Homo sapiens: one gene and its partners. The protein of the gene in region 1 purifies or fractionates together with the protein of each later gene. This does not show direct contact. Each region holds a gene or a part of one and is shown on either strand. Other genes may lie near its edges. The genes, in order: EPB41L3, VANGL1, HSPA12A and AP3B1.

Region 1 (9,695 bases):
TGGCGTGAACCCGGGAGGCGGAGCTTGCAGTGAGCCGAGATCGCACCACTGCACTCCAGCCTGGGCGACAGAGCGAGACTCCGTCTCAAAAAAAAAAAAAAAAAAGCTAGCAGGGTGTGGTGGTGGTCGCCTATAATCCCAGCTACTCGGGAGGTTGAGGCAAAAGAATTGCTTGAACCCAGGAGTCGGAGGTTGCAGTGAGCGGAGACCGTGCCATTGCACTCCAGCCTGGGTGACACAGAAGGACTCCATCTCAAAAAAAAAAAAAAAAAAAAAAAAAGTCTCTCTCTTCATTATATATACTCAAATTCTCACAGAAAGGAAACATTTATTCTTCAGTCTACTCTTGGAGTTCTATTTTACTGGAGTGGACATGAATTCTAATTTGTGAATTTTAGGGAAAGCACTAACTTAAAAGATGAATGCACATCATACAACACGGAAGAAAATACTTTTACAGCAAGTTCCTGCCACACTTAATCTAATATACTATATAAGTCCAGAAAAGATTCACAAGATAACAGCATCACATCTCTCAGTACATGGATAGTTGCCTCTCTTCTACCTAGGTGGCCCTTTAATACATTTGACCAACCAGTTTTTAAAAAACAATTATAAATAAAATTGCATCCGATCAAGTTAAAAAAAATCCTGATCTTTTATTTCAACACAAAGTTGTCCAAAGTCCAAGCAGTGTACATGAACTGATAAAAAATTGCTTTTAACCTAAATCGCATTCATGCAGAAGAAATGTCTTAAAAATTAAACGCAAATATTTCATTGAGACACTGACATTTGACCTACAGCTCCTGAATCCTTCAGCTAAAAGCGGTTTACAAATTAAAGTGGCTACTCTTCTTGTTATGGATGAATTATTCACAAAACATGTTCTGTTTTGAAAAACTTATTTTGGCTAAAGTGTATTAACTAAATAAACTTGATGCAGTAAGTTGTGCATCTGATATTTTGCTTTTCTAAACCACCAGAAAACCATAATGCAAATGAGACAGTATTCAGCATTCAGCTATCAATGCCTTGCAAATTAACAAATTGAAGTCACGCTTCTCCAATTTAGTATTTATTCCCTCTCACATTAATTTTGTTACTCCAACTAAAGTTTTTAAAGTTTGATACCAAAATTAACATGCATTTTTTAAACACTCACTCTGAGCCAAGACAGAAATCACCTCTCAGTCCCCAGAGTTCACTGGAGCTTGATGTGCTGCTCTCTTTTCTTAATAGGGCTTTTCTGCTTAATTTGCTGTAATTGGGACTACGTCCATGGCTCACAGACATAAGCAGAATTTTATCATTTTTGTTTCCTTGAGACTTTAAAAATCAAGGTAAATTTCAAAAACAATGTTTTTAAGCACTTGGTGTGACGCTTCCTGTACTATAGAAGTTAATGCTACCAAGACAAACTCCAGCACACCTGGCCACCTCAGGCAGCCTAAAATTCTCACTGTGCCCCACTCCCCACCCCCCCTCAACAAAAAGGACAGGCAGGGTATCTGCAAAAGCAATTCCGCGAGACTAATGTAAAAAAGCTGAAACAACTTAAACACGCAATGGAAGCACTGCATTAGCAGGACTGCCCGGCCCTCTCAGGACCTCCCAGCCCAACCTCCACAAGTAATTAACACCACATGTTTCCTTTATCATTCTATTTGTTCTGTTCCGCAACAATCTCTACCAACTTTAACCCTGGGCTGCAACTAACGGAAAAACCCTAGAAAACTTCAGATCCGTAATATAAAAAGAAAATTGAAAAGAATACTCTCATTGCAAGGGACCACAGTTACAATTTACTAGGTAACCACACCCACCGCATTGCAGAAGCCATGAACTTGGCGGGCGTGGGGGGGAAGGGGAAGAAGTCCGGCGAGATTAGAGGGGAAATCCGAAAAAGCAAGCCCCTGCGGCAGCAGCCAGGAAACACTCGCCAGGAACTGGCTGCGACCCCAACTCCAGCGGTCCGAAGCCCTAGCCTCCCCACCCCCACCGCGGCAGAGCCGCCTTCGCAGACACCTCCCGAGGAGAATCGCGGCCCCGAGGGCGCCAGGTGAGTCGCGCCGCCCCGAGCCCCCGGGCCACGGCAGGCCGACCCAGGCGCCCCCGGCCCGCCCGTGCTCCCGCGCCCGGGTGCCAGAGGCGAGGGGCCCCGGCAGGTGCCCAGGCCCAGGGCAACCCCGCTTGGACGCTCCCTCCTCCTCCCCCACCGGCCGGGGGCCGCTGCCCCAGTTTGGGGAACGAGGCAAGTTATATAAAAGCGGCCGGCCCCCCTGCCCAGCGGGGATGCTTTGTGCGGAGCGCACCTTATCGGCCCCGCGCTGCGCCCGCCCGCGCCTGCACCCGGGACGAGCCCGCTGCCGCCGCGCGCTGAGCGCAGGGCCCCTCCCGCGGCCCGCCAGCCGCCACCCGCCCGGGCGGCGCCGCAGTGTCGCCCCCTGTCCCCCGCACCTCCCCGGGGGAGGGGCCGGCCCGCGCTCGCCCCCAGCCCGAGGGGCAACTTAAAACATGGCGCCCCGGGCGGGGGATTTGTGCAAATTGGCGGAGAAGGGACGCGGGGACCGAGTCGCCCCTTCGGCCAGGGATCCCAGGGAGGCCCCCAGGCCGGAGGCCGGGGCTCAGGCTCTGCGCGCCGGCCCAGCCACTACTGCGCCGCGGCGGGCGGAGCGGGCGGGGGGCGCGGCGCGCAGGCTCGGCCCGGTGGGGGTCCCGGCGAGCGGGAGGGCGGTTGGGGACCCCGGCCGCGCCGGGCGCGGGGCTCGGGATTCGGGAGACCGCGCGGCGCCGAAGCCACGCGTCAGCCCCACTGTCCCGCGCGCCTCGCCCCAGGCCTCGGGCTCTTCCTCCGCACCTCGTAAAGCCGAGACCCCCTCGCAGTCCCCCACTCCGAGAGGCGGAAAAGTTACCTGGGATCAGCAGGGAGCCCGGGCGCGCCGCGGCGTGGGGACTAGGCTCGGGCGCGCGTCCTCGGCGGCGGTGCGCAGGAGACTCGGGCGTGGGGAGGAAGCCGCAGCCCAGGGCTGCTCGCCGCTGTTCCCCCCGCCCCCTGTTGCAGGAGACACCGAGGCTCCGCGGAGCTGCGGCGGGGGCCCACGCCCAGAGACCGTGCGAGGAAAGCCAACCTCGTCCTGCCTGCCCTCCCAGCCGCGGGGGAGGGGGCCACCGCAGTACTTCAGGACAGTTACATGGGCACAGCCTCCTCCGTCCTGGCGCAGGGTCAGGCTCCGCGGACGACGCCTGGAGACAGCTGCCAATGCCAATAGCTTTAGCCCTTTATTCCCACTTAGATGATGGCCTGGCCTCTCCAGACCCCTCTCCCCTCCCAGACATCCCCTGTGAGAAAGGAGGGAGAGGGTGTTCCTGACCTTCAGGTGAGTTATTTATTGGCTAGGGACTGCAGTATTTTTTTTTTCTTTTTGGAAAGAAAATAAAATCAAGTTGGTGGTGTCTTCAAGTCATGTTAATAGAGAAGATCTGAATTAATGCTTGATAAGAGAAGTCGCCCATTTTTCAGCAACTCAGCTACTCCGTCCTCTCCAGTATCTATAAAGCTTTCCACCGAAATTTACCTTGATTTTAAAGAGCGGAGGTGGCTCACTGACTTGTAAGTGAAAGAAGTAACTCCTGGTCATCTCACAATATCTTAAGATCTAACCGACTAACCAAGATATTTAAGAAATATTTTTATGGGCACAAAAAGAATAGAGTGAATAAGACATAGCATCTGATAGCACAACAGGGTGACTATAGTCAAAATAATTTGATTGTACATTTTAAAATAAAGTATAATTGAATTGTAACACCAATGATAATGCTTGAAGGATAGATTTCCTGTTTTCCATGATGTGATTATTACACATTGCATGCCTGTATCAAAACATCTCATGTACCCCATAAACATATATACATACTATGTACCCACAAAAATTGAAAATAAAATATTAAATTTTTTTAATTTTTAAAATAAATTGTATGTATATTTAAGGCATACAACATAAGATACATATATAGTAAAATGGTTATTATAGTGGAACACATTAGCATATCTATCAACTCACATAGTTATGCATTTCCCCCAACACCCCTCTACTTGTGGCAAGAGTAGCTATAATATACTCATTTAGCAAAATCCTGAATACAAGACACTTCTTAGCTCTAGTCCTCGTGTTGTACATCAGATCCCTTTCATGTTGTACGTTATTAATTTTTTTAAAATAGAGCCTTCTCCAAATCATCCGGTTGCCCCTCCAGGAGCTCAGGGACTCATTAAAAGAGGGAAAAAAATGGATTCACAAAAATATTGCATTTGCTACTGGGTGCCAAAGACAAGATACAGAACACGTGCCTCTGGGAAAGATTAGTGGGCCTGATCTGTCAGTGAGGCCCGGAGACGTGGGGAGACTTGGCGCAGGTTTCTAGAATAGGGAAGACTTTGGTAGGAAAGGAGGATGGTATTTGATTTCCTTGGCTGGAGTGGAAGGGTTTTTTCATGTTGAAGAGGGAGAAGGTTGGAAAATTATAGTTACTATGTTGCTATGGAGTTTATGGGACTATATTCTATAGATGTGTAGCTTTGGGAAATTTTGAGCAAGAAAGTGTGACTTAAGTAATGTTTTAAGAAAACTAATCTTATGGCTCTGCAAAGACTAGAACAGATGGGCAAATACCAGGTTGGTGTTCGGAGGAGACTATGGTATTAAGACAGTTACCAGAGGTAATGAGGGCCTGAATTGTCTTTCAGGTGACAGATAAAGGTGACAGTTCCAATAGTGGATGTTTGGGAATTAACTGCATTTCCTGTCAGAAAGTGTTGCGTATGAGTATTAGAGACATATATGCACATATCACATACGCACCTGTATGACTCTGTGTGTGTGTGTGTGTGTGTGTGTGTGTGTGTGTGTGTGTGTGTAGCACATAAGGTCTGTGAATGAAGAAAGAATTCATTTTCCTTTTTTGCATGTACACTAAAGCACTCCATTGAAAGTGGACTTGAATAAATTGTATTGTTTACAATAAACACTCATTTGGCATTATCATTCAAGACACAGATGGCTCCATATTTTCATTCATTTTGTTGCAGTATTTTTGCTATTCTTTAAAATTGAAAGCAAACTTTTTCTTATGACTCATGAATCTTAATCTTTGTGGTGATGAAAATCAGCAATAGTGTCTGAATGGCAATTTTCTTGGGAGAAAAATGTTAGACAACTAAGTATTTTTTTAATTAGAAATACCTATCTAAGCCAGGCGCAGTGGCTCATGCCTGTAATCCCAGCACTTTGGGAGGCTGAGGCCGGTGGATCACGAGGTCAGGAGTTCAAGACCAGCCTGGCCAAGATGGTGAAACCCCGTCTCTACTAAAAACACAAAAATTAGCTGGGCATAGTGGTGGGCGCCTGTAATCCCAGCTACTCAGGAGGCTGAGGCAGAGAATTGCTTGAACCTGAGAGGTAGAGGTTGCAGTGAGCCGAGATCTCACCACTGCACTCTAGCCTGGGCAACAGAGAGAGACTCGTCTCAAAAAACTACAACAACAAACAAACAAACAAAACCCTAATTATGGTAATATTCCACGAATTGAAAATTTGGAGTAAAAACCATACTGCTGCATAGTTTGATAGGAAATCTTGGAAGCAATTACTTTGGAATCCTCTGGATTTAACCAAGTCTCTCCTCTATTATTTTTTTCCCCCTAGCACAGACAGGGAGAAAAAGAAACGTCAAATTCATGAGGGGTGCATAGCTGCATAGCTCCCTCAGCAACTTGCCTGCATCTTGATAATAGCGATCTCTTCATTCTTTCTTGTGAATCCCATGCAGGATCCTCTCTTAGTCCTCTCTGTCTCCCCACAGTGCCTCACTGGGCACATTGCAAGCCAAGCACTTCACATTTTTGCTAACTGAATGAATGGACATTGAATAATGAACTAAGCTGTCACTTTTCTTCAGGGATTCGGCTTCCTCATGTATAAAAGGGACTGATTCCAAAATTCTGTATGGTTCAATAATATTAGGGGCCTATAAAACTAAAAGATGTATCACCTCTTACTAAGTAAAAGCAATAATGAAAACCCTACTATTTAGCTCTCATCAGGAAATAATGAGCTCTTCCACACAGAAAGGAGAAGGAACATAAAGTAGAAAGCAAGGTGAAGATACAATTATGATTGAATTTGCTTGCTTTCTTAGAATACTAACTTCTCTCCTTTTCCCTCTCACTACCAAAAATAAAGCCACTATAGCCCCAGAGAATTCTTTATTCTTGTCAATGTAACCCCCCTTGTGGTGCTGTTTCAATAAGTTATAGAAAAGTAGTTCTTGGGTCCAGTAAATGCCGTTTACACAGTCCTAGAATTAGTGCCAATTTGGCATGAGAACTCAGTTCTTCAGATTCTTAATTTACTATGTCCACACAGTACTAAAGAGAGTGTTATGCAAATACTGAAACAATCCATGGAAAGTCAGGAAAGATTCCATGACTCTAGCCTAGGTCTTAGGATGCCCATTCTGATCTCCACTACCTTAACTTGGGCTTTCTCTACGCTAATCTTATTTATGGACTTCCTGAAATTACTCTATATAATTTATATCACTGAAGGTCACCAGCTATCAAGAATTCTAGCCAGAGAAAAGGTGCAGAGAAAAGGGTGCAGCTTACTTCAGGTAAGATATGTGTGTAAATTCATCCCAAGCTGAAGAGATTGGATCCCCCATGAACCTCTATTCCACCACAAATGTCAATAGAGTACTGACTTCTTGAGTGAATGAGTAACTGGTATTCTGCTACCTGAACAGCAATGATAATTCCAACCTGATAGCCAAGACAAGGACAGAATTTGCAGTTGTATTGACAGCCATGTTGTCAGCCTTATGGATGAGACTCCAGAAAGAAATAATAGAGAATCAGTCTGGTTAAACTTATCTGAACTTTGCTCTCAAACATGAAAATTGAAGAAATATTGACGCTTGAGCAAACCCTACAAATGCCACCCTAATAGACATTCACACTCATTTGGCCTCATTTATTCAACCTGATCTGCTGCCTTAGTGAAATGTTGACAACACTGGCAATAACTAGTTGAGGTTTATTTTATGCTCAGAATAATGTCAGGCACCTGAATTGCATATCAAGTTCTTGAAATCAGGATATAAAGTCTTCAGCCACAGCGTTACTGGGGACCATAAATAAGAGAAATACAGGGATGAATGCATAATTCAAAAGCAACAAGCTTATTCTTCTGAAATAAAAATTCATTGAAGAGTTTCTAGGTTCTAAGAATAGCTTTAAGTTTACAGCTCATTAAGGCTTCCAGATGCTCTCTTCATATTGAGTTTGTATACCCCATTTCAGGGGTCTGTCTACATGCAAGGCACAGATGCAAAACGAAATAAAGTATTGATAAGTATAAATGTAGCACAAAATGTATGAAAAGTATACATAAGATGGAGCAAGTTTAGGCATGCTAACACCATTTAAAATCATTCCTATTCATCAGAATTCCATATTTGCCTTTTTTATCTTTGTATTCTTATATAAAGAATAGACTTAAAGGTGGACCCATACATAGTATGTAAGTTTTATTGTATTAAAACATATCCTTATTGATTTTTTTACTTTCTCCATTTCCAGTAAATTTTAGAAATAAGTCTCAGTACTTTTAAACGATAAAATTGTAAGGGTTATTCTAGTGATCAATTCTTCATTAAATGTAAATGCTCAATGATTCTGTTCTTAAGTAAAAATAAAAAATCCACTGAGAATGTTTTCTATTTAGGATTTTAGTATAAATATGGAATGGTAAAATATGAATGCTAGAATATAAAGAATGGAAGTTGTTAATCTGTAATATTAAATTCAGCTCTCAACCACATGATCACTATTGAATTATATGCTAAGACACTTAACATTTTAATCACTTTTCCCCCAAAAGACAAAATAAATGCCAGCAAGCCTGTCCATCCCCTGTAAAGCTGTAAGTAATCCTAATCAGCTATTATGTTTCACCCCAGAAGCTATCAACAAAAATTAACAGAGGAAGAAATAATAGATAGTAAGACACATTCAGAAGTCGGGCTTATTAACTTGTTAATGCTATCTCCTCTTTAGGAAAATGTGTGATGGTTAACTTTATAAACTAATAAACATACAGCAATAACTACTCTAAGGAAAAAGCATTAGCTTTGTTTCTTAATTTAATTCCTGTTTTCCAGCATGTTTTTTTTCCCCTTTCCAACTGTCTCACTGGCTTGCAGATTTCAACAGTGAGGGTACAACCTGAAAATGTCATTCCACTGTAGTCCACAGCTTCCAGAATGCTCTGGGAATCACTGAGAACATCATCTAGAATATCTTTGTCCCTTAAAATAAATTTGTTCAATAGGTCAAAGCCATTTGAAAGAAAGCCTTGGCTACTAACACTTTCCTATGCAAGATGTTTATTAGGGATTTGTCTGATATCCAAGGCTGACTCATTTGTAAATGATACAAATCTGAGGATACCAGAGTTTCTCAAACTGGCTTATTTGTGAACAGTTTTCTAAGTTTTACATTTCTGTGTCAATAAAAATCTTAAAAAGAATAAAACTACCAGATGCACACCATTGATATCAGAATCATTCAAAGTACTTGTGAATGATGCAAATTTTGGGGTCCAGCCTTAACTGAGTCGGAAGCTCTGGGGTGGGGTCCAGGGAGCAGCCATTTTTAACAAGTTCCCCAGGTGATTATAAATCACACCAAATCTTGAGAACCATTGATCTAGGCGACCAGTCCATACCAAAAATCCCACAGGTGACAAAGTGCGTTCAGATAGATGTTTCATAGAAGTTGGAACCGAAAACGGGTGGAAAAACAGCCCACTCAGACATATACGAGAGCTGAACTGAAGATAATCTACACTACACGATTCACAGTTTGCAGGAGTTATTGCTTGGATCCTGTCATTGCATGCATCAGTCTGCAGCAGCAGTTCATTAGCAGTAAGTATAGTAATAAATAACAATAAAGGATTGTCCTGTTCCCAATTCCAGCAATAATTGGATTAGATGCCTATTTATTAAAGATTGCAGTAACACTGCAACTCTGACCTTAATTTCCAAGTTTTTACAAAGTTGCCAAGGGATGTCTCATTAAAATGGGAAATTGAGGACTAATTGCCGGCAGTTTTAGTTAACTTTGAGATCTGACTATCTTAAACCCTGCAAATAGAGAATTTCAATACATTTTGGTATACCATACTTAGGCAAACAAGCATTCCCTGGGCTGCTTAGTAAAACTTAGTGAACCAAATTAAATAAGGAAACTGACCAGAGGCTCCATCCTTCTAAAGCACAACATGAGGAATTTTATTTCAGAAAAACAATATCATTTATCGTTTTAAATTAGTGTGTTGTTAATTTTAGTGTTCAGGCCTTGCATTTCTCCTATCAATTTATTAAGGTTATTTTGGTTTTATACTTGATGAGCCCTATAAACTTAAATCTGGTTTTACATCCATATATGTTTAGAAATATTTTCTTTCATTAAAGGATGAGATTTCAGCTCAATAAAAGAGGACCATCATTCTAATATGGGCCAGGCTGTTTTATAAACAGTGAGTTTCCAGTTAGAATGTTTAAGGAGATACCAGATGACATCTGTTAGTAATGCCCCAGAAGGCTTCTTCTATCAGGAGGGCACTTGG
Region 2 (6,800 bases), on another chromosome or scaffold:
GTGTTAAGTGTGCAGTATAATTTTCTAATTTATTTTCTCAATCTTTTAGCACATGTGTAAGACACTGTGCAAATTTTTTGAAAATAGAGCAATACTTTTTGTGGAATACTAGCTAACTAATTCTGTCATTAAACTCATATTTTGAAAATATTCAGACAATGTTGAAAATCCTATCTTGATTTTTCTGACTCTGCTCATTCTCATCTGGCTCCAGTCCTACCTCCTTATTTCTTCTCTATTTTCCTTTCTAGCCCCTCTTCCTCTGCCTGCTCTTTGAATGATGGTGTTTCACAGCATCTCAACTCTACATACTCTTCCAAAATGATGTCATCGTGCCCATCAATACTATCCATGTGCTAATTACCTCCAAATATGAGTCTCTAACCTTGACTCCTTGCCTTATTTTTAGACACATTCATTCAACTGCCTCTGGATATCTTGACTTGTTGTTGTACAAGCACTTCAGACTCAACACAACAAAACCTGAACTCATTGCCTTCTCCCCTAAACATCTTCTCCTCTTCATGGAGTCCTAGTTTGGGTGGGTGATAGCACCATTTATCCAATTGTCTAGGTGACCTGAAGGTGCCCCTTCCCCCCTGTGATTTGTGCATCCCTGGATCATGTCACTTATCATTTAAGGTATAACATATATTTGCATGTCTGTCCTTTCACTAAATTGCAGGCTCCTTAGAGGCAAGGAATTTATCTTAGAATCCCTAGCACTTAGCGCTTTGCCCATCACAAAGTAGATACTCATTTATTGAGTTGGTGGATGAATAATTGATTAACTAGAATACCTATAATTCCCCAGCACTATTGGGTAACAGAGCTTACAAGGTGTCTTAGTCTGTTTTTATTGATATAAAGGAATAACTAAGAGTGGGTTATTTATGAAGAAAAAATATTTATTTCGCTCACAATTCTGCTGGCTGCAATACTGGGCATCAGGTGAAAGCCTTGGCTGCTTCCATTCATGGCAGAAGGTAAAGGAAAACCAGTGTGTGCAGAGATCACATGGTGAGAGAGGAAGCATGAGAGAGAGGAGGTGCCAGCCTCTAACAACCAGCTCTCCAGGGAACTAACAGAGCGAGTACCCACTCACACCCCACTTCCTCCAGAGAGGGCATTCATCTATTCATGAAAGATCCATCCCATGACCCAAGTTCTCAAGTTCTTAAATCACTCCCTTTAGACCCTACCTCTCAATACTGCCGCACTGGGGATTAAATTTCAACAGGGGATTTGGTGGGAACAAATATCCAAATGATAGCACAAAGTGTATTAGCAGGGTTTACTTATGTAGATATAAATTGTGTACATTTTGCTTAATGGCCCAAAGAAACAGCTTATCAATAATCTAACCAATGAATATCTTTGAGTCAATTGCTTTCTCTAATTTCTGTCCATGCAATAGCTAAGAATTTGATTGTGTGCTGTCAAAATTCTACCACTGAGGTTAGCGGAAAACAGGCTTCATATTTCTTTGCAAATAATCAAATTTCCTTTAAATAGACCTATCTAAAATCAGTTGATAATTTAACTTGAATTCCCAAGCCACTCAGGAAAATAATCCAATATTCACCTCCCACATCAACCCAAAGTCTGTTACTTTTCTGTCTTCTTATTTGACTCAAATACCTTTCCACTTGCTGGTTTACTCAAAAGATCTGTTTCATCTCCATGTTTTAGAGCCTGAGGATTTCATTTTTAGTTATCTATTCAAAACATTTTCTTCACTGTAAAATGATTGACAACTAGTAGTTTTTGTTACAATGGTAATTCTACTTTCCCAATCCATCACAATTGTCTTGGTTTTTATAGAAATATGACAGGTTGTCTTGAAATTCTGAAGGTCTCAAAATTATGCGAGAGTGAAAAATGTCCCTGAAAAAGTAAGCAACTTTTTAGATTGAAATAATCACATGAAGAAAAGAAACAAGACACAATTTGATATTTCAGTTTATTTTCCAAGTTTACAGTATAAAAAATGTGATGTGTAAAACATTTTACAGTTAATTGGGATGAGGGGGGGATTATACTGGAGGACCCAAAAAGGAACAAAATAACTTGGGTGACAGGTACACTATTCCATCAGAGACACTAACTCTGTTACTGACATCACAATGAGAAGAAGTTTCATAGCATAAACCTTATGAATGTAAGTAAATGGACCTGTACAGATGGTTGCTGGTAGTGTCATTCATTCATTTACATGCTTGCAAATGTGTCAAAAGAGCCCACTACCCAGTTTATGCAGGAACTCACTCAGGCCTTGTCATACACATATGGTGACCATGAGCAGAGGCTGGTTGGCAAAACTGCCCCTCCTGGTTACAATGTACAGTATTAACTAATCAGAAAGAACAAAAAAGGTCCCTGACCACATTTTTACACAAACCGTTATGACTCTGTCAGGTAAAGACAGGTGGTTTCATCTCTGAACTTTCTAAATTGGTGCTGGACTTGAAATCAGGAAATGTAAAGTCCTTCTAACCAAAGCAATTATCAAATAATCTCCTCTCAAATAAGACCTGCCTGGCCCAGGCCTCTCTGGTTCTCTCAGTAGCATTTCTGTTGAGGAAGGGGTCATCTATAATGTGAGTTAAATCACTGAGCCAGTATCTGCCCCCACCCTCATCTTTGCTGGCATCCTGCACTCTATGCAATAGTTATGGCCATAAATGACTGTTGGAAATCAAATTTGGCTAATCACGCCATAACTTAGGGGTCCCAGAGGAGTTTGCCATTTAATTAAAGCCTACCGTAAACTATTATAAAAATAAATTATTGCCATAGTTTAGATTTTTGTATGTTCCCTTTTTAAAGAATGATGATGAAAAGTAAGCGAATGTTCCATTACCTCTATAACTGAGAGGTGCTGGTAAATGAAAAACAACTGTTTCATCTTTCTACAAGGCCCCTAGAACGGCAATGATGTGCAACTGTCTAAATTCCCTACAACTTCAGTTGAACTAAACTTGTCACCTGCAGATCAGATGCCCAAGTCCCATCACTAACTCCCTGAGCAACAAGTCTCTGGTCCCCACAGATGAAGCTTTCTTAGGCTGAAGGCTTTTTAGAATTAAACACTCCTAAATGATGAGCAACTTCACAACAAAAGGCCATGTCTACAAGTGAAAGCTCAGATAAAGATAAGCACATACAAAACCAAACAACTGTACATTCAAATAATGCTTCCCAAATACCATTTCAGTGCCAAAAGAAGTGCCAAAGACACTTTTAAGATAAAAGCCTGGGGTTTGTCACCTTTGTCCCCAAAGCTTAAAGTAAGTGTCTTTCTTCCACTATGACAAGGACAAAACGCTGATGTTTGTAAGCTGAGAGAGACATAAATGGTAGAGTCTTGGTGCCATATTGAAAGAAACTTTTCACAGTGCTGCACCTGGCTTTAGGAATCTGCTCTTTTGTTGGAGAGACTAAAACAACCCACTAAAGAGGCTTATTTCATAGACAAAACAAATTGGGTTATCTACGTAGAAACGGAACAGGACCTGGGAAAACGGGACTTATAGAGCCCTGAAATTTAATTTTATTCTGAAGTTTTACATTTCTAATCCATCGCATCTTAATTCCTAATGAGATGTCACATGGAGAGATGTGAGCACCATCTTCCCTTTACTGTCTTCCATTGAAAGCAAACAGCAGGGCAGAAAACTATGGTTTATGCACAACTGAATCAAAACTTACTACATATGGGAACAGAGAAAAATGGTTTTCTGAGTCCTGTTTTACGTCTGCTCTGTCAAAAGTCTTGGGGGCAAGTGTGAGAAAGACGGTGGGATGCAAACTGCTTGCTGAGAACACCTACGTCAAGGAGGCCAGGCCAGGGACTCCGGCTTGAGATCCCCACAGGATGGGGCTGTGGACAGCCCCTCTCACTCCAACCAGGGAAGAAGTTTGGGGCATAATGTTGCCATGGCACCAGAGAGAGGCCAGGTCAAGCCCCTGCCTGCCTCCCTGCACCCAAGGCCCAAGGCACGCATCTTGCCCAAGCCAGCAGAGTGGGAGCAGAAGGTGGGGCCAGGCAAAAGCAAAGGGGGGCTGCCAGAACAACAGCATCCCTGTCTTGCAGCAGGTGTTAACACTGAAAGGCTGGGTTTTCCAGAAGGGATTCTCAAGTTCTTTCCATCAAATATCCTAAGATATTTGCTAGCATAGTGGAGAAGCTTTCCAAGGGACAAGGTGTAAATCCAAAGTGAAAGAAGAGATCCTGCCTCCCAATGAACTCTCACCCCAGGTTCTAGTTCAAGGATGTGTCTCTAGGTCCTTCCTCAACATCCAGAAGTGCCGAATCATTTAGACCATACTTCAAGGTACAGTGGACTGAGGGGTTAGAATCAAACATCTAGTTTGAAATTCTGTTAACCAGACATGAGACCTTGGACAAGCCCCTTCCTCTCTGACCTTCCGTTTTTCACCCGAAAAACCAAGATGACTCCTATCTTGAAAGAATGTGGGGATAACAAGGCTGGGTGGAACACGGACTGTGACATACATTACCTGATAAATGTGTTAGTAGCCTTTCCTTTCTTTGACCAAAACATGTTTTGTCAAAATGTGATCCAAAACTGAATTTTCTGAGCATACACTTGGTTAAAGCTCAATGCAGTTATTTCAACAGTGTCTAAACTATCTCATTTCGCTACTGCACTGAATACCAATCAAGAACGGTGGGCAGAAGAGCAATTCTTATTTTATTTATAATGAAATACGACCACAAGGTTACATAGTAGTAAATTCACAGTAGTGATTTTTTTGTTTTTCAGTAACAAATCCGTAAATCACAAACACTACCCAGAAATACTTAAATCACTTTACAATCGCAGGGTCTCTGCTGCAGGACTATTTAAATAAATATGCTAACATTTCTGTGCTACTGTAAGTAACCTATCACTTTTTAAAAATAAAGCCCAATTTTTAAGTTACCTTAAGAAATATCTAGTAAGGCTTCCAGGGTAGTGAAGTTTGAGCAGTAATTTTCTTAGAGCTTGACCTTTGTTTGTTTGTTTCTTGCTGTTTTCAGAGTCCTAAAGCAAGAAAGAGTTTAATGGACTTGCCTGCAGGACAGCAGGCTCCCCAGAAGACAGTGCTGTGCTAAAGCCATTTACTCTAGCGGGAGAAGCCAGTGTCAGTGAGGGAAAGGAATAAAGCAGGGGAGGGAAAAGTCACTGGTTTAGAGCGACCTCTCAAAACACAGGGTTATTAAGTCATCTCTCAAACACAGGGGACTGCAGAAACACAGACACCCTCACACACTCAGCTATATACACAATGACACGTATCTGCTGAGCTACACACCTGCTACAGATAACACAGATGTTAAGATGTCTGACATATAAATGTGCTATCCGTCTGGTAATACACTCAGAGAAATGCTCACATATATGGAAATAAAAACGCACAAACAAATATGCATCCCCACTTAGGGATACTTACACAGCAGGACCCAGATTGGAAGGTAAACCAAGGACTCACTTTTGTTGGTTTCACTGAGTGGCTGGAGCACTCACTCAGTACGTAGGTTGGAGTGGCAAGGTAATCAATTTCTGTCAGTCCAATATGCTGGTAGCATCCCACAGAGCTACAGCCCTTAGGTAAATACATGCACTCGAAAGTGATTATGAGGCAAAATGAGAGAGAAATCTACCACCAACTACTGTAGAGAGGGCAGGGGTGAGCACTTTATCCCTATCCAACACACACCTGCACAGCTAGTCTCTCCATTAAAAAAGGAGTCCCAAGCCCCAGGCAATGAACTACAACACAGCAAACACACCAGGTCACCTGCCTCTTACCATTTGCTGTAAAGAACTTGTCTTCCATGTAGATGTCAAAAGGCAAGAACAGAGGCGGGGGAAGGGAGGTGATGATAGTTGGGCAAAAATTTGGTGGTCAAGTATTTTCTCTAGGGCTTACTTTATGAATTTTAGCCAAAGTATTACAGATTTGACTTAACATTTTGATAATGCAAAGGATGGATGAACTATATAGCTTTAAAATCCTCTCTGAGAATGCATACAGAACTTTTTAACATTCAGTTCATGGACTATAAAAACTGTCCTATCTTCAAAAGTACATATTTAAGAACAAATTATCTACCAGTTAAAACATCACCAGGGAAGAGAGCAATCTCAGATATAGACTCCTCATTAAGTTCTTTAACACTCAATGCTCTAATTTTAATAACGTAGGATGAAAATTATAAAAAATCTATAAACATATAAGGCAAATGAAATCCTGTCTACTATAATGTGAACATACATTCTACCAGCCTTAGGGCGAAGTTTACCCCCTTTTAAAAAGAATAGCCTACCAGTTCCAAGAATTGAAATAAAAATGCATTGTGTTCAATTGTGGGATGCAGCTTTCTGAAACCTTAAATCTTTTAAATGTCATTTACATTGTTCCCACTGCAAAAGTAACTCAAGCTATAAAGAGGTTGAAAGTGCAAAGGCTTTACAAAGATCCTGCATTTTATTTTGTTATTCTTTCAAAAAGAACTCAATACAAAGTCAATATAAAAAAATCAATACTCAATTTAAAACAGAAACAGTAATTTCTGAATGTCTAACATTCTCCTATGCAAAGACTGGGAGAAAGAGGAAGGGGGAGAGAGAAAATAAATTCTTTAATTTAAACCTTTCTTCACCCTGCTGGGAATGCACATGCCAGAGCAAATGAATCCAGCTTAACCCCTTCTGGACTGGTCATTGAAGATAGGGTTGGAAGAACAGTATTTTAGAATGGTGATGAACAGTGTCATTATTAACTATATG
Region 3 (9,048 bases), on another chromosome or scaffold:
GGCCCCAGGGAAACCACTGCCAGACCGGATGACCACGGTCCCTTCAAATGGGGCCAGCGGCCATGTGGACTGACTACAGCCCATCACACACCAGAAGAACACACCAAGAGTCTGTGCATTATTGTCATGCAAGGGACCCAGTGGTCAGTTACCCCATGTAGCATGAAACTTTTACATGGGAGAAAGTAATTTTCTCTAAGAAAGAACAAAAGAGCAAAATTTCTAACAGGTAGTCTCTTTCTTCTCCATTCTTGTACAGCCCTCACCTAGAAATTCTTTACTACACAGGGCTTACTTCAGACACCTGTACTGTTAACTATTTGTGGGAGATAATTACTCTCTGACCACCAGATATCGTGCCCCCTAACTCCCCCTCTCTCAGCAAGGTAACCCTTCTTCTGGCCAGGGTTGACTGTTTCTGGGTCAAGTCCTGATCATACCTGAATCTTGCGGCCTCGTCTGGGAATCTGGACTTGGAAAAGAAAGAAAAACAGACAGACATCAGACCTCCTGTGTATCAGAACTTTTCATTTCAACATGGGGGTCACTGTTGGGGGCCACATTTGCCCTAAAGATGGGAAGCAATCCTAAAGTGGTCCTGCAGAGAGGAGGGGTGGGTGACATGCAGAGCAAAGCAGAAGTAAGAGACAGGGCCAGGGGTGGTGGCTCATGCCTGTAATCCCAGCACTTTGGGAGGCCAAGGTAGGCAGATCATTTGAGGTCAGGAGTTCGAGACCAGCCTGGCCAACGTGATGAAACGCCGTCTCTACTAAAACTACAAAATTAGCTGGGTGTGGTGGTGCATGCCTGTAATTGCAGCTATTCCAGAGGCTGAGACAGGAGAATCGTTTGAACCCGGGAGGCGGAGGCTGCAGTGAGCCAAGATCACCCTACTGCACTCCAGCCTGGGTGACTCCGTCTCAAAAAAAACAAAGAAAGAAAGAAAGAAAGAAAGAGACAGAGGGAAAGAAAACTGCCATGTTCCCAACACTTTCCCCTCCTAGACCTAGCAGCAGGTTTAAGTTCCAGGAACCAGCCCTGGATCCTCACTGTAAAGTTACCTTTTTGGCTTCCTCTAGCCAGAGAAGGTTTACTTACCTGCAACCAAAATCCCTAATCAAAACCCTTTCAAAACAGACATTCTGCCAAGAGCCAAGGCACAAAAAGATGGGCAACCACTACTGTCAAGTGAGGGAACACACAAGAGACTAGAAAAGAAAAGCTGGGCCTGCGGCTCCACCATTGCAGAGTGTTTTATTCACAGCAATTTGACTTGGCACTTCATTCCTTTGAGTTAAGCATTCTTCAAATACTTTTTTAAAATGTAACTCCTGCTGGAGGGACAAGTCATGAATTTGTTAACGGCAAGGAGGTTTGGATCCTTGTGCCGTCTCTGAGTGACCGGGAGTGGCTGGCGGGACTGCTGGAGGATTCTGTAGCCATTGCGGAGTTCAGCTGGAAAGCATGCAGAGGGAGTCGGCAGACCTCGATTCTGAGCCTGGCTTTGCCTAGTGTCCTGGGGCAGTCTCTTCCCCTCCCTGACTTCAGTTTCCCCATCTGTAAAATGAGAGGGTGGGCCCAGTCCAGACATTAGACAACCTGGTCCCATCTAGCTGTGGATGTATCCATGAGCTCTGTTTTCTAACTGCTGGCCCAGGGAAACCACCACCCAAACTGATAACCATCATCCCTTCAAATCGGTCCAGCAGCCATGTGGACTGACTACAAGCAGTTGTTTTCTGAAACTTTCATCTGTCCTTTGGGCACAGACTCCTGCCTGATGGTTGTGCTGTAAACAGTTTCTTATCCCAGCCAGCGGAGATGGTCACTAAGGGACAATGACTAAAGGAAAGAAAAGGAAGTAAGTGGCCAGAGGAGTTTAGCCTTCAGCCCAAGGAAACATGGGAGACAAGCAAAGAGAGGCCAGCCTGAGGCCTCAGAGGCAGCAGGCTGGAGCCCGAATACCTACAGCTTCCCTGTCCCAAACAGAACCAGCCGCCTGGGTACAGGAACCACTGTTCCTCATCACAGAGAAACCAATAAGATCACGAGGTCTGATTTACAAAACATAGGAAGCCCCAAGGGACATCATTTAATTGTCAGTTTATAGGAAGCAAAGGGCACTGGCGTAATCCATTTCCCTCTGAGATCTTGGGTGCTAAGTGGGTCGATGAAACAGGAGCTCCATCCTACAGAACTTACTCCTGGAGTCTCTGTTTTCTGACATTAAAATTCTGAACATAACTGACAAAACTACCCACTAAGTATGCAAACATCTGGGAAGCAAAGCAGTCTCAAAATTTCAAATGACTGAATAGGAAGTGACTGTAGGCTCTTCCTATTGGCTGTTATTTGAGGCTCCACCCCATATCGGAGCAAATATTTTTTAAATGAACACTTATCCCACATCAAATATAAATACACTCAGTCCTCAACTTAGGATGACTCAACTTATGATATTTTCAACGTTTTTATGGGTTTATAGGGACGTAACCCTATTGTAAGTCAAGGAGCATCTGTTCAAGCACTTCCACTGTAATGCAGCATATTTTCCTACAAATCTTCACATTCTACAAACCCATACACTAAAAATAACAGGATTCATGAGGAAAACAAGGTCGGTGTACATCACTCCACACCTGCGGAACCTTGCTACCGGAACCTTTCCAAAAACAGTAACGGAGCACTCACTTCTTAGGGGGCCATTCTCATCAAAATGCAAAACCCAACAGGGCACAGTGGTTCACACCTGTAATCCCAGAGCTTTGGGAAACCAAGACAGGCAGATCACACCTGTAATCCCAGAGCTTTGGGAAACCAAGACAGGCAGATCACCAAGACAGGCAGTTTGAGACCCGCCTGGCCAACATGGTGAAACTCTGCCTCTACTAAAAATACAAAAATTAGCTGGACATGGTGGCACACACCTGTAGTCCCAGCTACTCGGGAAGCTGAGGCAGAAGAATCACTTGAACCCAGGTGGTGGAGGCTGCAGTGAGCCGAGATCACACCACTATACTCCAGCTTGGGCAATAGAGCGAGACTCTGTCTAAAAAAAAAAAAAAAAAAAGCAAAACCCATCCAGGGTGTCACCCACACACCCATACCCATCATTTTCTTATAGGGACAATGTCTTTGCAGCTCCTTCATCTGCCCTCTCAGCTGCCAACAGAGCTTAAGGGAATGGGGAATGGAACAATACTAAAACAGCCCTGACTTACACTAAAGGTAGTTGCATCTACAGATTTTCAGCTTTTTTTTTTTTTTTGCTTTTTTCATATATTAGCCTTCAATCATGAAAAAAGTGCATTCTGGGCTGAGCACGGTGGCTCATGCCTGTAATCCCAGCACTTTGGGAGGCCGAGGAGGGCAGATCACAAGGTCAGGAGATCGAGACCATCCTAGCTAACACGGTGAAACCCTGCCTCTACTAAAAATACAAAAATTAGCCAGGCGTGGTGGTGGGCGAGTGTAGTCCCAGCTACTCGGGAGGCTGAGGCAGGAGACTGGCATGAACCCGGGAGGCGGAGCTTGCAGTGAGCCGAGATCGAGCCGCTGCACTCCAGCCTGAGCGACAGAGCGAGACTCCGTCTCGAAAAGAAAAAAAAGAAAAAAGTTCATCCTGATCTGTCAAAGTGCAAACATACTGGGAAAAATTGAGAATGTGCCAACACAACTTTTCTGAATACCACCATCATTCTTCATTTATCACTTATAGAAACACATGTTCTAGCACAACAAACAAATAATTGTAAGTGTCAGACAATCACTGGGCACTTGCAGAACGTCTTAAGAAGTGAGATCTAACCTACAAGTTGCTTTAAAGCATAATATAGTTTTCTAAAGTTTGTAGTTTCAACATTTTTGCCAAGCCAACTCTGTTAGATTAAAAATAGCCACACATTCTTTGCAGGTCCTCTCACTAAGAGGTGAAGGCAATTTCTCCATCCCTCTATCTGAGCTGGCTTCAAGACTTGCTGTGACCACCAGGAATACAGCAGACGTGATTTTATTGGACTTCCCAGGAACGCCTCAAGAGGCCTTGCAGCTTCCCCTCTCATCCTCTTGCTGTCCTGAGGCCACCACATAAAGAAGCCTGAGCTTGCCTCTTAGAGGATAAAAGACCATGTGGAGAACGAAGCCCAGCCGACAGCCAGCACCAACCCCCAGACCTGTGAGCGAGGTCATCTTGGACTACCCAGACTAGTTGAGCCATCAGAGTGTTGCAGTCACATAAGTGACCACAGGGAAGACCACCAAAACAACCACCCAACAGAGACCTGCCCAGAGAATCATAAGCCATAAAATGACTATTGTTGCCAGGCACGGTGGCTCATGCCTGTAATCTCAGCACTCTGGGAGGCTGAGGCAGGAGGGTTGCTTGAGCCCAGGAGTTTGAGACCAGCCTGGGCAACATAGTGAGACCTTGTCCCTATTTAAAAAAAAAAAAAAAGCCAGGCATGGAGATGTGCACCTTTAGTCCCAGCTACCCACAAAACTGAGGTGGGAGGATCGTTTCAGCCCAGGAAGCAGAGCTTACATAAGCCAAGATCACGCCACTGCTCTCCAGCCTGGGTCACAGAGGAAGACCTTGTCTTAAAATAAATTTTTTTAAAAAGACTATTGTTTTAACCCATTAAACTTTGGGGTGGTTTGCTACATAGTAAAAGCAAATATAATGTGACATTTTATAGACATTTCAATAACTTGTTTAATGCATTGATTGTTTTCCCTGCTTGGGAGCCAATAAACCTTTTTATTCAGATCTCAATGAGTCATGGGCCCCTCAGAAGGGGCTAAATCAGCCCTAAAAGTAACAATGTCTCTAAGGACCCTACTGAGATTGAATAGAAGTCAAGGGTTGATCCACAATCCAAACTCCAGGGAGGGCAACCCGCAGCAGGTGCACGAGGAACCTGACCTAATGTACAACACGGAGGAGGAGTCATTTCCAAACTTCAGACAGCTCCTGAGGGACACAGAAGACTCTCCAACACCCCAAACCTAGGCAAGACTCCAATCTTTCTGGCTATGAGAGGCTCGATAATAGCCCCCTGGTACCGATGACTATGTTATCTCCTATGGGAAAAGGGAGTCAGCAGATGTGATTAAATTAAGGATCTTGAGATGGGGAAATGATTACACAAGTAGGCCTAATAAGAGGTCCTCATACAAGTGTCCTTAGAAAGGGAATGGGAGGAGGAGGGGCAGAGTCAGAGAAGGGATGTGGCAATGAAAGCAGGGGCTGGAGTGATGGGCTTGGAAGATGGAGGAAGGGGCCACGATCCAAGGAATGCAGGTCACCTCGAGAAGTTTGAAAAGGCAATGAAATGGATTATCCCCTAGAGCCTCCAGAAGGAATACAGTTCTGCCAACACCTTGGTTTTAGCCCAGGGAGACCCATTTTGGACTTATTCCTGACTTCCAGAAATGTAAGATAATAAATTTGTATGGTTTTCAGCCATTAAATTTGTGGTAAGTTTTACAACAGCAATAGGAAACAAATGTACTGGATAATTCCTCCTGCCTACAAGAATGTAAGTTGGGACATTTATTCATAATAACAATAACAGCCAATAATAATTGCTCATATTAATTCAATGTCTACTTCATGCCCGGCTCTACTCTGAGTGCTTTTCATATAAAAACTCATTTAATTCTCATAAAGGCCATATGAAGAAGAGACTGTTATAATCCATACTTTACAGATGAGAAAAACTGAGGCTTTATGGGGTTAAGTAACTTGCCAGGGTCACAGAGCAGGTCAATGACACAGCACAGATTTGAACCCAGGCAGTCTGGCCCCAGATCTCACATTTAACCACTACGCTTCCCAAATCAACCTAACAATGATAATAAAATGACTGGAAGTTACTGAGAGCCCTCTGTGTACCAGGCTCATACCTAAGCTCATTACAAATACTCTCTCATTTCATTCTCACAGCACCCCAGTAGAGCAGAGATTATTAATCGTCCTTGTCTACAGCAGAAAAAACAGATGCAGCAACGTTAAACCCAGATGTTACAAGCATCTGAGACCAAAGCCCAGGTTTACCTGCACACCCTACTGCCTCCCTCATCCGTCTTGAGGCCCGGATGGCTGAGAAGACAAAGATAAGGAGCGCAACCACATAATTCACCTTCCAAACTGAGATACTTAGAAGGTGAAAGATATCATTATTACTAATTTCACTAGGAAAAGAGGCATAAACTAGAACTATTCCAGCAAACCAGGACATATGGCCACCCTAAAAATAAGGGGACTAAAATCAAGGCAAAAACTCTGCAGCTCAGGATTGCCCAGAAGGGGTGCCATGGAGCAGCTGCCAGCCCCGCAGGACATCTGCGGCTGCCAGGTCACGGTCAAGGCTGGAAGAAGAGGGGTGGTCCTGGCAGAGCTCAGAGCAGCATCTGCAAAGCTGCAGCCTGGGAGTCATTTGCAATGACAGGAACGCAGCAAGGATCAGCAGGGCCCGCTTCAGTGGGGCAGGTTTCAATTCTGAGCACTGCCTGTGCTTCCTTGGTCGTCTCCTCGCTGGCCCCGCTCACTCCTGGGGATGCCCAGGCCTGGGGGTGCCCGCAGTGGCAGGCGCTCACTCATTCCCTGCCACACGCTGCTCATTCATTAAAAGCCCCTGATTCCTCCCCGCTGTTCTAATTATGCACAGCAGTAATAAAGATGCTTTCTCCCTTACCAAAGAGGCCTATTTATATGAAAAGAGAGCATTTCGCCCCCACAAGATTGAGTCGTCACTCCAGGCCTTATTGGAATCAAAGCAGCTTCTCTTCTGAGATTGTCCAAGCCCTGCCTGACTCCCCTCCAGCTTGGCCCACTCCTGAGCATCCACATTTCCAGGAGCACCACTGCGGAGTGGGCAAGATGTAGACGCCATTGCCCTCTGCTGTGTTCCCTCATGTCTTGCTGACTGACACTCAACAAAAAGTAAGACATTTATTGAACACCTACTAGTGTCCTTAGTAAAAAAAAATGGAAATGAAAGACATAGTCCACGCCTTTCTCGGAAGAAAGAGCATTGAGAGAAACAGCACAAGATTTTAGGCTCCATGGCTGACTCATATCCCAACTCCAGCATTCACTGGTTGGGCAAGTTAGCAAGTTTTTCAAAGCCCTCAATTGCCTTATCAGCAAAATGGGGTAATAATAATGCCAGCCTCACAGGGTTGCTGGAGGAGTCAATGAGATACAGGCATACAAAGCTGGCATATCGTAGGGCCTCAACAAACACTAGTTGGAATTATCAACCATTAAGTACCGAAGGCTTTGGGACCACACAGGCAGATCTCATCCCGATGGATGAGCCCAGGAAGGCTTCCTGAGAGGTGATACCTTAACTGAGTTTTGAAGGATGAGTAGGACCTTGCTAAACAAAGAGAGGATGTCCCAAGCAGGGAGGACTGCATGTGTCCAGGGCCAAAGGCGATCACAAGGCTCTGGGAAACACAAGACACTGTGTAGGGACATACACAGAAGGCATGGGAGGACCACCAAGGCGGCAGACAAGTTGCAGCAGCAGATGTTGACACGGAAGTGGATCCCATAGCCAGAACCCTAACCTGCAATGCCCAGAGCATCACCCTGACCTTTGCTTACTTCCTTTGGGGGCTATAACCAGCGCCCTGTCACTACCATCTACAGCTTGGTGGCTGAAGGAAGTAGGGCAGCCACTCTCTATTAGCCGCAGGCCTACTCAACACAAGTCCCTGAGGGCCTATGACATGCCAGGCACATGCCAGGAGAGGCTGTTCAGCTTGACCACCTGGGGCCTGCATCCCATGGCCTAGGTCCTTACCTAGGCCCCCTTCCAGCTGTGCGCTGCTAGGACTGTCAGCTTTTTCCTCTGTGAAATGGGGATCACAGGGCGTCCTTCATAGTCATTCATTCAACAACAAACGTGGTCAGGGCTAAATGAGATAACTCAATATTCCCAGGTTTCAGCACACACTAAGTCCTCAATAAAAGTGAACGTTTAAAATGTTTATTTTTATTAAGATGAACCTCCAGGATGGCATCTCCAAAGCCCAATGCCAGGCCTCGAGAGATACCCTCAACCCAGGCAAAACTGCCTGCCCACCATCCCTCTCCTCAAGCCCGTGCCCTGGAAAAAATGACTTGGTTTCCACTCTTCATGTCTAGCCCTGACTTGGTCACCATAGGAGCCATCCCTGTCCGAACCACTCTGTCCACCCCCAATTCATCTCACCCTTCTAGGGCTCCATGTGTCAACCCACTCAGGTCATGCGGGAGGGGGCAGGATTGAAGGTCATCTCAAATTTTGCTGTCCAACACCCAGACCCTCAAGTGTGGCCCTTCAGATTTTGTAAATTAAGTAATTTAAACATCTTATTAAGAAAATTTGCAAACATACACAAAGTAAGCAGAATAGTAATGAACCGCCGCTCCCCATCACCCAACTACCACATTTTGCCATTCTTGTTTCATTGGCACGCACCTCTGCCCACTCCCCACCCCACCCCAACTGCACTTGTTGGAGAAGATTTCATGGCCAGCCTTTCTGACACCACCCCCCAACACCACCTACCCACCAGCAAACCCCTCCCCAACCCAGGACTGCCACTGCTCACAAATTCCAACAGTGTGATATTTGTGGCACCCATCCTTTTGTACCAAAAACATTCTGGAAATCCTTCCCAGGAAGCACAACCATTTTTTTATGTCCTTAATAGAGTGGTAACCACTGCACACATGCATAAGGGCTGTATGCACAGGTTGGTGCCCTGGAATCAGATGGCCTGGGTCCCAAACAACACTTCCCAGATGTGTGACCTTGGATAGGTCACTCAACCTGTGTTTGGATTTCCCACCCAGGAAGGGGAGAATGCTGGTAACAGGTTTGTTGTGAGCCTTTAAAACAATAAAATAATGCACGCTCTTTTCCCAGCAATGAGGAAACCTTAGAAATAAGTGTAGGGGCCAGGGGCAAGCCAACTCTGCTCCTATGCAATACTATTCACATCCTCCATTTTACAGATAAAGGGAGAGGTGCCCAGAGGCACAGTGAGCTGCCA
Region 4 (4,921 bases), on another chromosome or scaffold:
TGAAAAAATATAGCTAGAATTAAGAATTCAACATTGACTAACTCGACTCAATGGAACAATTTAAAGATAATCATGGATTATGACAAAGTTAAAGGAAATATGAGGCAAGGAACTCTGAATCACCACACCACAAAAGAAAAAAAACCAAACCTTTAACTTGGGGCTTTGGTCGTTTTTCTGTTTTACGTGAAAAACATTTTAATGATATTAAGCTACTAGTGTTAAAATGGTTTCAACTGGTAGCGCACATTACAATCGATACATACTGTTCACTGATTCATACTACATTATATTATTGATTTACCATAATTTTAAAAGTTAGCAGCCAAAAATAACTTAGTCAAAAGTAAAGCCCTAATTAAATTTCCTTAGTTTAAAAAAATACAAATGTGTGAACTATCTTTTAAAGATGAGTGTCCTAATTTAAGGAAAAATAAGACCTTTCTCAATCACAACATGCACTTTCCCTCTGCCTGAAGACAGCATGGATATAATTTTTTTTTCTTCCTCAGAAAACAGGTATTAAACCTGTCAAATTCTGTCTGACATTTCAAAAAGTTATTGACTTAAAATTCAAAGTTATGAAGCTCTGAGCAATAAGGCTAATATGGAAATGCCAACGACCTGCGATTACAAAGGGGCTTTTGGGTGTGTTACCACAGCGCCCAGGCTCCAGAGGGAAGTGGAACTCGTGGCTTCCATACATTGGTACAGAATGGTACAGAATGTACACATGGTACGGAATTGGCACAAAATGTACACGTGGCTTCTGTACATTGCACTTCTGTACATTCTCTTCCCGGAGATTCAGGGCTATATTTCTTTCTGGAGCAGGAAAATTTAACAATTTTGTTTACTCTTGTCATCCCACCAGCTTGAAAATTTAAATAATTTTTCGACTCTGTTTTGTTCTTTTCAATATGTATGTTCCAAGAAAATTCCATTCTTTTCTTTTCAGCCTTCCTATAATGCTTCAAGCAATGTACAGTCACTTCCTTTTTACTTTTTAAAAATCATTATGTATGTGGCTCTATACAAAAAGAACTGAGTAGCTTATACTACCTGAAAGTCCATTACCTTGCTTCAAAAAGGAAGTAAAATTTCAGCTGGTTTTAAAAAGGTACGAAAGTATTAGAAAAGTTCTCTGATTATAGAACAACCTTGAAAACAGTAACTTAAGGTAGCAAATAAAACAAATACTCTAGGAAAAGATGCTAATAGGTTGATCATATAACTAGTTTTAAACATTTCTATAAGTTTATGCTAGTTAGTTTCCAAAGTTGGGCATAAGGAAAAATGAGATTCAAAGAATTTATTCAGCAGGCCACATAATCAGATATCTACTAATAGATCAAAACTACCTAGAAGATGTTTATTTTGCAATATGAAGATTTTTGTTTTTGTTATTAAATACACCAATTTTTTTTCCTTGGAGTAAACTATAAGTAGAAAATTTACTTGGTTTGGAAGTGGTTTTTCTTTCGCTAACTAAACCACATTGCTTCTCTGCATAATGTAACACTCAAAATACTTGCTTTAAAATAAGAAAACTTTAGCATATGAACTTCAGGATTATTAATAGTTTCTCATTAAAAATGCAAAGACAAATATGATTCATATGCTAGTTTATTTATCTTATTATTGAGAGATAATTTCATGATGACAGTTATCAATAATCAATTACAATATCAAGAAATTCAAAGAACAAAATCTTGCAGAGACTATGCTTTTGTATTTGGATTTAAAAAGTATGTGATCTCATTTTCACATACCAAGCTGAGAGGCCATTTAGACTATCTCTTTGCTAATTTTTGCTTACTGCTGTAGGGAAGAAGATTTCCAATGAACTTTAAATATCTCATTCATGTCTACCATTGTCGAAAAAGAGAAGGAAAACGAGGAGGCCAAAAGAAGCAGCAGGACAGAGAAAACGCCACATGGATTCAAGAGTTGAGACAACTGACAGTAAAATATATGCTCTTTGGTTAGCAAAGCAAAAAGGGGGAAAGTATTGCATACATGATAGATACACACTAGCATTCTAAAGCAGGAGACAAGAATGTCAAGAGTGTATTCTACCCCCACTGCCAGATGGAAGGGCTATTATTATAAATGAAAGGCAGCAGTAGTGGATGCCAGGCACTTTTGTTGTGTGCCAGATTCTAAAGTCCAGATGTAAGCAGGTTACCCCTGAGACAGGACAGGCTTCAGTTCCCGCAGCAGAACAGAGCCAATCACAGTTTTCTCAGTGTTTATGATAAGCTGGGCTGTAGAGCCTTCCTTCAGTTCCACTGTGACTAGCATCAATGACCCACTGTGCACAGTTTTAGCTGCAAACCTGGAAGAGAAAAAAGAGAGACCTTTTATCATAAGATGGGGAGGGTAAAGGAGATAGCATACATTCAAATAGGATTAAAATAACTCTTTTTTGTCAAATGAAATAATTTGCTGCAGGCTCCCTATTGCCAAAAACCCAAAGCCAAGCATTCTTCTGAAAAATCAATAAACTGTCCAGCCCATGCTAACCACAAGCAGGTAATTTTAGTGCACATTTAAAACAGAACAGAAAAAGGAAGTCTATTTTACTTATTAGTTTAAACAATAGATGCATGTGAATAATTCTCCATTACAATATATTTGAGAACCATTCATCCACTTGGTATTTAACATTTCACCATGCATAGGGACATTTTAAATAAGCCATTGTATTTTTATTTTTAAAACATGTTAAGAAAAGGTACCTTTCTCAAAGAGCTTCAAAATTTAACTCCTCATATCTGAAAATGATTATGTAATAAGTTAGATAATTTTACGTACATTATAAAATTCTTACTAAGTTTCAATGAATTCACTCATGTAACAATATTCAAATTAAATCTCTAATGTTAATGATGACATGAAGCAAAATCACGTGACAGCTAAGTGCAACCTCACGCTTCCCTTTTTCTTTGTTTTGAAATGTTTAGGACATTAGATCTTTCTTTCTGTAGAGTGTAAACAAAAACATTTCCAGAGGAAACTGGAGGTCTAAAGCTCTAACTCTAAATTCCAAGACATGAAGAACCTACTGATTACACGGAACTAAAAGCAAAACTAGCCTTTTAAGCACTGCAATTGACTGAAAAGCCGTTGCAGGCATAACGAACTTCTGTCAATCCTGCTAATTCATTCTGCATGCACAGTTGAGCCTCAGGGTCATGAAGGAAGAGGACAGGAACCTCCCAAGCCTCCCTTTTCCACATGAAGCATGTTCCACACACTTTTTGGGGGAGGGGGTTTGATTGCAGGGATGACTGGAGAAAAACAAAGTTGCTGCACATGAGCTTTTGAAAACACTAACAAGTGTAGAGCAGGTCTGTGACCTGCTGTGACCCCACTTTGCAGGGCCAATCCCCTTGCCCCTTTCTATATGACACGTGTCTGAATCTGAGCCATCTGCCTCAATTTGCGCAACATCTTCAGCCACAATGGCACCCAGTTAGCCCTGACAACAGCTCACAATACATAAAAATAAAACTGCCGCGCTAACAGCACGCTGCGGACTATTCAAGAGCAAACCAACTGGTCAGTGTCTCATGTCTGACAATTAGCATGGGCCTCGCACAGAGCCCACGGTGTCCACAGGGATCTGTTTAATTACCATCAACATAAAAGAGGGAGTTTATCAGGAGACACTCAGAAAAACTTCACTCCCGACTTAATTAAAATATTAGCCACTTAAGCAGGAAGCAGATTCTCTTTAAATGAAAAGTAATTTCTTTTTTGGGTTTTTTAAAAAATAACATCAAGATCTCATAACACATTAATTTTTTTAAAACCAAACAAGCCATTTTTGGACAAATAAAATCATGAACTAGGTTGTCCAACAATAATTAGAATAATGTATCCAAACCAAAACAGATATGCTAATTTTACTAAATTTCAAATATTATAAACACTTTGAAGTTGTGTTTTAAAATGTTAGCTAATGGGCTATCAACAAAATATGTTAGAAAATCTTCCTAGGCATTTGCTTGTGCACTCTACAAGCATGCTGAAAACTTGCAAGGAATCTGACAGAGCAGTATTCCTACTGAGAGAAGCAATTGTAAGTAACCAGTTTAGGAATATAAATCATACCAATGTTTTTAAAGAGGTTTTTATAAACCTCTTAACACACACATCCATCTGCTTTTCAGACGTACACATGAGAGATTATGAACTAGGTACCTCAATTTCATCTTTGAGAAACATAAAGATCACCAGCCCTAAAATGATCTCTCTTTTCTAAGGCTCCTCACAGGTTTATGCATTTCTTTTGTCTAAATTTTTCAGGCTCTTCTGCTTCATAGGAGAATGCTGTTTCTATATTCCTGTAAAACCACGTCACCAAAGGATATGAGGTGGCTCTATTTTCCCATTCATTTATGCAACTTTTCCCACAGATTCGGTCATCACGTGTGTAATTCACTCAACAAATATTTCAACAGAGGTCCCTATTTCTGACAGGGTTATAATTATGTAAACAATAGTCTTATTAGTCCCTTTATTTACTTAACACTTGTGCCTTGGGACCATAGAGAAGGAGATTATGCCTGAATAGGAACACAAAAGCACTGTTGTTTGAATTTCAGGGTGGCACAGCCCCAAGGCACATTTTGTCTCTTTTCTATTAAAAAACTTAGAGTTAATGTTACAATTAATATAAAGTTGGCAGAGACAAATGTCAATTTTGGTGTCAGTATGTTGACAGAAATTAGAATTAGTATCTTGGACATATTTTTGAAATCCTATTGCCACAAAAGTCTCAGTACTATAAAGAATAGGGGTATGAAAGAAAAGAGGCATCTGCTTACGCTGCAATGGAAACACACTAAGCAAATCATCCTAGCAACATAATCTGCTAGCTGGTGTAAAAGCTACTGCCTTTATTAACTAGGTC

What was found.
Region 2: the proteins of EPB41L3 (region 1) and VANGL1 purify together in Homo sapiens (affinity purification with mass spectrometry; 2 studies listed by BioGRID and IntAct, with this or other methods). This does not show direct contact.
Region 3: the proteins of EPB41L3 (region 1) and HSPA12A purify together in Homo sapiens (affinity purification with mass spectrometry; 4 studies listed by BioGRID and IntAct, with this or other methods). This does not show direct contact.
Region 4: the proteins of EPB41L3 (region 1) and AP3B1 purify together in Homo sapiens (affinity purification with mass spectrometry; 2 studies listed by BioGRID and IntAct, with this or other methods). This does not show direct contact.

The regions. Positions count from the first base shown.
Region 1 is NC_000018.10:5,540,998-5,550,692, forward strand, and holds the start of EPB41L3 (band 4.1-like protein 3), read right to left. Parts: upstream 3,001-9,695; 5' UTR 2,916-3,000; intron 2,063-2,915; exon of another isoform or gene 1,832-2,062; intron 1-1,831. UniProt on the Homo sapiens protein: Tumor suppressor that inhibits cell proliferation and promotes apoptosis. Modulates the activity of protein arginine N-methyltransferases, including PRMT3 and PRMT5.
Region 2 is NC_000001.11:115,693,371-115,700,170, reverse strand, and holds the end of VANGL1 (vang-like protein 1), read right to left. Parts: 3' UTR 1,950-6,800; downstream 1-1,949.
Region 3 is NC_000010.11:116,731,398-116,740,445, forward strand, and holds part of HSPA12A (heat shock 70 kDa protein 12A), read right to left. Parts: intron 1-9,048. UniProt on the Homo sapiens protein: Adapter protein for SORL1, but not SORT1. Delays SORL1 internalization and affects SORL1 subcellular localization.
Region 4 is NC_000005.10:78,000,718-78,005,638, forward strand, and holds the end of AP3B1 (AP-3 complex subunit beta-1), read right to left. Parts: intron 2,339-4,921; coding exon 2,185-2,338; 3' UTR 1,609-2,184; downstream 1-1,608. UniProt on the Homo sapiens protein: Subunit of non-clathrin- and clathrin-associated adaptor protein complex 3 (AP-3) that plays a role in protein sorting in the late-Golgi/trans-Golgi network (TGN) and/or endosomes.